Linked DNA regions of Homo sapiens: region 2 is linked to region 1. Evidence: fine-mapped expression QTL. A gene starts in region 1. The other region holds a variant in brackets. All regions are shown on one strand. Distances are between the middles of the regions.

Region 1 (4,393 bases):
TCCCAGTACTTTCGGAGGCCGAGGTGGGCGGATCACCTGAGGTCAGGAGTTTGAGACCAGCCTGGCCAACATGGTGAAACCCGTCTCTACTAAAAATACAAAAATTAGCCCCGTGTGGTGCCACGCGCCTGTAATCCCAGCTACTCGGAGGATGAGGCAGGAGAATCGCTTGAATCTGGGAGGCGGAGGTTGCAGTGAGCCAAGATCACGTCATTGCACTCCAGCCTGGGCGAAAGAGCAAGACTCTGTCTCAAAAACACACAAACAAACAAACAAAAAACATAAAGAATGCTCGTGCTATACTAATTGGAAAAAAGAACCTGTTAGAAAAAAACACAGCCAATATTCTAATTTTGAAAACAAATTTTTATGTCAGTATAGGTATAAAAATAACGGAAAGATAGAAAGCAAAATGTTACCATTGATGAGCTCAGGGTTGTGAGATTATGGTAAATTTACTTTTGCTCTTTGTACTTTTCTGTTGTCTCCATTCTGTACTAAAAACGTAACTATTTTCTAATCAGGAAGAAATTAAGTGGCCGGGCGCGGTGACTCGCGCCTGTAATCCCAGCACTTTAGGAGGCCAAGGCGGGCGGATCACTTGATGCCAGAAGCTCAAGACCAGCCTGGCCAATATGGTGAAATCTCAGCACCACTAAATATACAAAAATTAGCCAGGTGTGGCAGCTCGCGCCTGTAATCTCAGCTAATCTGAAGGGTGGGGCACGAGAATTGCTTGAATTTAGGAGGTGGAGATTGCAGTGAGCCGATATCCCATCTCTGTACTGGAGCCTGGGCGACAGAGTGAGACCGTGAGAAAGAAAAAAGAAAAAAAAGAAAAGGAAGGAAGGAAAGGAAGGAGAAATTAAGCTATTCTACAAGTGTGTGAAAAAGTTGGAAGAACGATGTTTTAATAGCCCTGAATCAAATTTATAATAGTATTTAACAAACTCTACAATTTAGCACTCTTGAGATTTTAGGGTTTTATCCCAGCTATCACCCTCCCTTGGAGCGGGAGATGAGGAAAAGAGGGACCCAAAAATGAAACTGAAAAACACTCCAGCTAATCAAGAACTTGAAATTGCTTGCAATTTGTGACTATGTTAAACAACATCTAAACAAAGTCAAGCTCCTCTAAGTGCAAACAATACGTGGGATGCTGGGGAGAGTGTGCGTTTACTTTCACTACAAAATGTTTTGGAGTAAAACTTCATTTTGAAATATAAAGATTTTGTTGGACACAAGGCTATGTGGTAAGGCAAAATGGTAAGATGGTGGCATGACACCCCCTTGTGGTTTCCACCGATTCCCGGTTCTGTGCTAGATACTAACTATTCTAGGATTTAAAAATGTCTCTACATTTCTTCGAACTTTAATTCGGGCCATACTAGCATTCGTGAGCATTTATTTGAGCTGAGTACGCACATAAAACTTAGGAGGTCATAAAAACTGAGCCTCACAAACAAGTAGTGTCTCTTTCAAATATAGCTTTATCTCCTGGGGGATGGTGAAGGGATCAGAGTAAAGTCTGTGATTATTACTTTCCAGCGATTGATTGGTTGATTGGCATGTGGTTGTCAGAAAAAGCAGTGGACGTGAACAAAGAGACATCATTGCAGCCCTAACTATCCGAGTGACCTTGGGTACCTGATAATCCACATGGCTCTCAGTCATCCTCTTAACCGTTTGAACCTCAGGGGTTTAGGCTACCAAAATGAATTAAGACCCAGTCTTTAGCTTCTCACACATTTACTTTTCCATTTTGTAAAATGTGACTAAAAACCTCAACTCATTGTCAAAAGGACTGAATTAAACATATCACCACACTTGCACAGAGATCATTTATGGAACCATGTTCACAAATTTATTTATGCTCGTGTAATTTAATCATTTCTACAGCTGCTCAAAGAAAGTCAAAGTCGAGAAAGGACTTAAATCGTCGAGTCCAGTCCCCCTTAACTCCTCATTCATTCCACTATTTCTCGAGCCAAGGAATCGGGTGAAACTCAACAACGACTCGCAGTCTTCAGGTTTCACCCTCTTGCCCTGAGGGCAGCATCCTAGCCCTAGGTGGTTCTCTGGTGTGGCCTCAGTAAAACCGTGACGAGGTCCTCGGCCTCTCTGTCCCCAACAGGCGGCTGGCACACTTCGGGGTCTGAGATGCCATCTGCCTTGCCTAACCTGGGCAAGACCACTCGCGTCCTTTCCCTTGAGGAGCAGCGTGGGAAAGGTGCCGCTGCGCGCCACGTTTCTCCCAGTTCCCCAGGGCTTGAAGGGGCGGTGGAGGCGGGCGGGATAAATTCGCTGGCCGCCTGGCGTGGAGTAATCCTAGAGGGTGGGATCGCCCTCGGGGCTCGGGAGGGGCTCTTCCCCGCCCAGAAGGAGACTGCGGCGGCGCAAGGCCTCCGGCAGGGGGCGCGGGCCGCTGGGCCTCCCCCGGGGCTGCGGGCCGGTGGTCCCTCCCAGGCCGCGTGTGCGGTGCGTTCGCGCAGCCCGCTCCCTGCCCCCACCTCACCTCGTCACCTCCCCGCCCTCTCGGCGGGCCCCTGAGGTGCGCGGCGCAGGCGCGGAGCGTGGCGGCCAGGGCAGTGCGGCCGCGGAGCCTAGGCCAGGGGCCTGGCGCTCAGGGCGTGGGGCGCGCGGGGAGGGAGAGGGGTCGGCCCAGCACAGCGTCCGGGAGCGCTAGGGCCGGAGCAGCGCTGCCCGCCGCCGTGCGTCCGCGGGAAGGACCGCGCGGCCCCTCCGCCTGCGCTCTCGGCCGCCGCCGCCTCTGCGTGGGCCGGCCGGGAGGGCCTCGGGGGACTGACTGGTGAGTGTGAGGGAGGAGCGGGTGGGTCGGGCGCTGGACTGCTCCAGGGGACGCGGGCGTGCGGGCGCATCTTCTAACGGGAGAGGGCGGGAGAGACCGGAGCTCCCTTTATACGGAAACTCTGCCTTCGTTATATGGCGGGATGGCGTTCCCCTCCCCCATCCCGAAGGCAGTTCCACCCCCTGCGCAGGACGCCTTGGCCGGGCTCCCCTCGGCCCCCTGCTGCCGTTGTCTTTACGGAACCTTTGGTGTCGGGGCTTGGAAGTCTCCTTGGCGCCGGCTTCTGGGCCCGGGCGAAGCTGGTGCGTGGCGCCGGGGTGGAGGCGGCTAAGTCCCAGGGACTTCTGCCCTGCGCCTCCGACGGGCATTTGTCTGGCTGCGTCCGGGCTCGGGACGATCCTGGGTCCTCGCTGGCGCTGCGGCCCTGCCCGGCGGCTTCGTGACCTCCGGCGGCGAATCCCCGGGCTCGCGCAACGAGTTGTAGCCGCGGAGAGCAGGCGTCGATGCTGGCGCCCAAAGCCTCCAGCCTGAGAGTCGCCTCACTCGTGTGACGGTGCTTAGAAACCCCCTTTTTTGGTTTTGTCTTTAAGTACTGTCTAGGGAAACGAATCATTTGAAGCAGTTTATGCCTTTTTTGTTTTTTTCGAAGAGAAAGATTTATGCCGGACTGAAAAATAGCGAATCAAGTATTTAGTGACCGTGTGATATTGCAGTAAAGACTGCCTCCACGTTGGACATGTAGTGGATTCTAGTTCAGGCTCTCCTGCAACATGTTTTTGTTTCAATTCTTTTACAATTTAAAGCATATGCTTATTTTAATGAGAACGAAAAAGAAAGCTTAACTCTTTTTAAACTCGTTAAAAATGGAGTTATTTACTGTAAAGACGTCTTACAGCAATTAGGAAGAATATACATTGCATGAAAGGCCTTTTGAAACGTTTATCTATTTGATGATTGCTGACTGCCTGTTGTATGTATTCTATTTTGTGCATAGACTTTCTTGTTGGTTGAAAAAAATGACAGGTGGAAAGATGTTGGTTTCTAGGTGATATAAAAAATTTTTAAACATTTTTCTGATTTTTCTGCAGTGACACGTGTTACATATGTCGTTTGTATTTCAGAGGGAGGGGGGACTGTGATAGGTTGCTTGTGATTCAGAATCTTCCTGCTAAGAAGACTAGTGAGCAAATGTTTATGACATCCTTGAGTAGAAAGCTAAGTTTTTTCAAGGCTGTTATGCACACAAAAGGCACATAAAAATGATTGCTAAAATGAAGGATGGTTAGCATTTTTGGTCTTGAGTAGGCATCACCATTGTGCTGAAAGGAAGTCCGATAGACATTTGGTTATCGTTCGGCCCTAAGTAGGAGTCAGACCCTTCCTGATCCGTGTGCCTCCTCCTCTCACCTAACAGCCTGAATCCAGGCCAGCTTGCAACGTTGATTTTAATACCACGCTTGGTTTCCTTTTCTTACTTTTATTCTTCAAGTTGCAAAGAACTTGAGATGCATTCTGAAATAACAAGAGACTACTTAACATGTTCGGCTGAGTGTTTTCAGTGTTCTCCCTGATACTTTTAGAGTA
Region 2 (4,393 bases), 100 kb after region 1:
TTCCTTGATATTTCTCAGTGCTAATGAAGTCCAAGGAAGCATCTGTTCCCATTGTTCCAAAGAAGGGACCGTGGTGCTGTCTCTTAGAGAGTGCTCCCCACGCAGACGCCTCCTCTCAGAGCCTCCCCACGTGCTGCTGCTTCACTGCATTTGGCAACTCCTCTCCATCCATTACGCTTTGAAGTTCTAGTGTCTGTTAATTTTGTTAAAGATGGAGTTTGTAGTTGTTTCTTATCCTTACTGTTTTGAGTTGATTCCAAGAGTAAAAGGTGTCAGACATGTTTTGATTCTGCCACTGATAGTTTTGTTTTGTTTTTCTGAGACAGAGTCTCGCTCTGTCACCCAGGCTGGAGTGCAGTGGCGTGAGTTCAGCTCGTTGCAACCTCCGTCTCCAGGGATCAAGCCATTCTCCTGCCTCAGCCTCCCAAGTAGCTGGGATTACAGGTGTGCACCACCACGCCTGGCTAATTTTTCTATTTTTAGTAGAGACAGAGTTTCACCATGTTGGCCAGGCTGGTCTTGAACTCCTGACCTCAGGTGATCCACCTGCCTCAGCCTCCCAAAGTGCTGGGATTACAGGCATGAGCCACTGTGCCCACCCTAATGATTTTCTGCAACCTAATTAATGTATAGATTAATATTTCCCTAGTGTGACATTATATTGTGACACTATCTACATTATGGTTTTGTACCAAAAATCTATGATTCTAGGCATGTAAATAAAAAGAGAATTATGTCTGTCTTTCATAGAGGCCATTCTTCTACATAGGTACTTGTTCGCAATGAATTTTGAAGAGTTCTTTCGAGACATGGTAAACACAAATAGACCTCAGTTCTTACTTCGCCATGTGAGAGAAAAAAAGACCATTTCTAGCCTTAGAAATCATTTAATATAGACTGATAAACTAATAGGCAAATTTTGTAGATTCCTGGTACTAAATAAGTGCTAACATTTTGAAATGAAAAGGTTTTACCTGAATCTGATTCCGCAGTTGTTCTGCTTCTTGCCTCAACTGTTCCAGTTCGCTCATTTTTTCAATTTGTTTACCTCAGGAGCTAATGAGTGAAAACAGCTGTTAAAAAACAGAGAGCAAGAGAAAGATTCAGTTCTCTACTTACATCTTAATCTGGTTTTACAATACTGACATATAACTTCTTTTTGGACCTACTGAAATTCAATGGAGGTAGTCAATTATTAAAGGAATTTAAAGATGCTTAGTAAATATAGAATGAGGTTATTTACTGAAGGGTTGTATACAAGAACATGATCAGAGGATGGAGGAGAAATTCCAAGTTGTAGTATTCAAGGCTGAATTATGGGGAATTAGTACCAGAATGGAGTCTGGTGAGAAATATTTTACAACAGTTCAGAGGACACCAAGAGACTTCCCCACTTGGATGTCTGGATTGGCACCTAACACAGTACCTCAAAACTGAACCCCACCCCACCCCCAAGCCTTCCCCATCTCAGGAAACGGCAAGACCATCCTTACTTACAATTGTTTAAGCTAAAAATGTGGGAGCAGTCCTGTTTTAATCATAGCCTCCCCATCGAATCCATTTGCAAATCATGTCAGTTATTCCTTAAGAAATTATCCAGGTTCTAATTCTGATTTCCTCCACTTCTACTGTCTGGGTCCACATCACCATGACCATCTCTCACCTGGTCTCCTTTCTGCTGCCCTCGACCACTCTCTGGTCTAATTAGAGCAACTAGAGATCCATTTAAAATACAAGTCACTTTAAATCCTCCAATGGTTTTCCACTCCACTAAACTCTATCTTGACCCACAGACCCTGTATCATTACACACACACACCCCCCTCTGACCTCATGTATCACTCTCACACTCACTCTGTTCCAGTTGTTCAAAGACTTCTCTGATGTTCCCTGAACATGCTAAGCAGGCCCCAGTCTCAGTGTCTTTGCATTTGCTCCTGCCTCTGCTTGGATAGCTCCTGTCTCTGATTTTATAAT[C/T]CCTTGCTCCCTTACTAAATCTGCCCAAATGTGATCTTCTCAGTGGGACCTTTGCTGATAGCACATGTGCACCCAAACATGCTCCTCTTACCCTGTCTTGTTTTTCACTATGAGACTCAACACCATCAGCATGTATTTACTTACTTGTGATCTCTTTCCTTCTGATAAGATGTAAAGGGTCTGGTGTGGTGGCTCACGCCTGTAATCCCATCACTTTGGGAGGCTGAGGTGGGTGCATCGCTTGAGGCCAGGAGTTCAAGACCAGCCTGGGCAACATGGCGAAACCTCATCTCTACCAAAATTACAAAAATTAGCTGGGTGTGGTGGCACATGACTGCAATCCCAGCTATTTGGGAAGCTGAGGCAAAAGAATTGCTTGAATCTGGGAGGAGGAGGCTGCAGTGAGCCGAGGTCACACCACTGCACTCCAGCCTGGGTGACAGAGTGAGACTCTGGCTTTAAAAAAAAAAAAAAAAAAAAAAGATGTAAAGTTCCTTCAGGTAGGGTCTCTGTTTGCTTTATTCTTTGTTGTATCCCCATCACTTAAGATACTTTGGTCTCCAGTAAATAAAGCAACCTGAAATAGCTTAACAAATAAAGGAATATTCATTCTAAGGATTTAGGATGAATCACAGAACCAAAAGACAGGAATATTACTACCTCAAAAAGACACTAGAGGCTAGAAACTGGGAGTATTCTTTCTCTACCTGTCCTGGTCTCTTTTCTCTTCTTATCTTCCTTGGTTTTTTTCTTTCTACAGAATGACTTTTTCTGCTCCCCTAAGTACAAAACCCAAGCCTATAACTTTTTAGGTCAAGATTGTAGCCCGAAATGACTGTCCTAAGTCCAAATTCCTATAAAAGATTGATTCCCCTCATGAGAGAGAATTTGGTTTTGATGTCTATGCTACAATCGCATCAACTATGGTACAAATATCTGTTTATTATGTTCAGACAAAAAGAAAAGAAAAACCAGTATCTATTTATTCTTTCAGAATTCACTTTGTATTTATTTTGTCCAATTAAAAAATAAATGTATTGGGATTGACTGGAATGGCATTAAGGTATATAAAACAGTTCCAGAAGAACTAAAATCATTCTAATATTCCATTTCCAATTTAATATTGTGGCATATTTCTCTGTTTATCCAAATTTTCCATCTTTATTTATGAGTCTTAACCATTCCCTGATAAAGTTTGATTGTTTAACAATTTAGTATGCATCTCAGAGAGGGCCAGACTGGACAGATTACAGCCGGTCTGGAATCCCATTCCGCTGAAGTGAAGACAAGCAGCATGCGGGCTCTTTAAAGCCGCAACCTTAGCTGCCCTTGCTGACCATTCCTGAGATATCCCTGGCCCCACAGTCCTAGAAACTCTCATTATTTTGATACCTCTTTATTTTTAGGGTCCCAAAACATTTTGGGTAAGCACAACTAGTTTACATCCCTCCTACTAACTAAAACACTAGAAAGAACTATCGAGGGACCCTAAAGGGCCTCGGGACTTTTTAAAAATTTGCAGTTATTATTATTACTATTATGGTTATTATTTGTAGAGATGGGGTTCTAGCTATATTGCCCTGCCAAAGCACTAGGACCAAAGGCATGAGTCGCTGAGCCCAGGCTGGGTCTCAGAACTTTTAAGCTTATTAAAAATTACCTGTAACCCATCCTACTGCTGTCCTTCCCCCAAAGCCACACACACATACCAGTGACCTTCTAAAGCAGGAGTTACCTGTAATAAGAGTTACTTGGGATAAACTATGATCTGTACCAAATGAATGAGAATTTCCAGGCTGAGTGCCCCTAAGGATGGAGGTACCATGAATAGAAATGGGAAACAAAGAAAAAGCAGTTCCCTCACCACCATCACTCCGTGGATGGGGCACCGATGGGATGACGGGTGAGGCAATCTGTCCCAGACCCGGGCCCTTCCTGCACATTCTGGCTGGGAATGCCAAGAACACAAGTCCCTAGTGGCTGTTACTTGGGCCATCTCTCAGGGTTGTTTTGCAACATGCAACCTCAAGGAATAAGACAATGTCTCCTCATGAGATGAAGAGCAGAATGGCTTCTATTTACTGTAAAAGGGGTAAAACCCCCAAGCTCAGTGTCTCTAGGCTGTGATGAAATCCAGTGCACGTGCAGCATCCATCTGGGCCTACCTGTGTCACCCTGTGGGCACTGGGGAACACCGGGAATCAACACAAAGCATCATCACACCATGCTACTCACCGTTGAGTAATAAAATCTTTTGTCTCTGACCAAGGAGTTTCATCAAACAGTAACAGACTCATTTATTCGCTTGTAAGTAGGTAAAGATCCCAGGTCCTTTACAGTCATGGATATAGGGTTCAGAAGAAAAAAGATGAGGGGTCCAATGTGGAAAATAGTGAGTTTGTGGCTCATCCCTTCTT

What was found. PIP is the estimated chance that this variant, and not a neighbour inherited with it, causes the effect.
Region 2: its variant is fine-mapped to the expression of ZNF639 in blood mononuclear cells (TOPMed, PIP above 0.99). The same link has a PIP of 0.9 or more in lung.

The regions. Positions count from the first base shown.
Region 1 is chr3:179,320,483-179,324,875 of GRCh38, forward strand. It overlaps ZNF639 (zinc finger protein 639), which reads left to right and starts at 2,549. Exons shown (of 6, transcript NM_001303426.2): 1 at 2,549-2,809. RefSeq lists silencers at 2,279-2,718, 2,749-2,888 and an enhancer at 3,459-3,508.
Region 2 is chr3:179,425,170-179,429,562 of GRCh38, forward strand. GNB4 (G protein subunit beta 4) reads right to left here. Exons shown (of 10, transcript NM_021629.4): 2 at 975-1,073. The coding sequence starts at 1,031. Among named protein-coding and RNA genes, the nearest start is that of GNB4, 24 kb to the right of the region's middle. The variant C/T (reference allele first, on the strand shown) is at 1,977.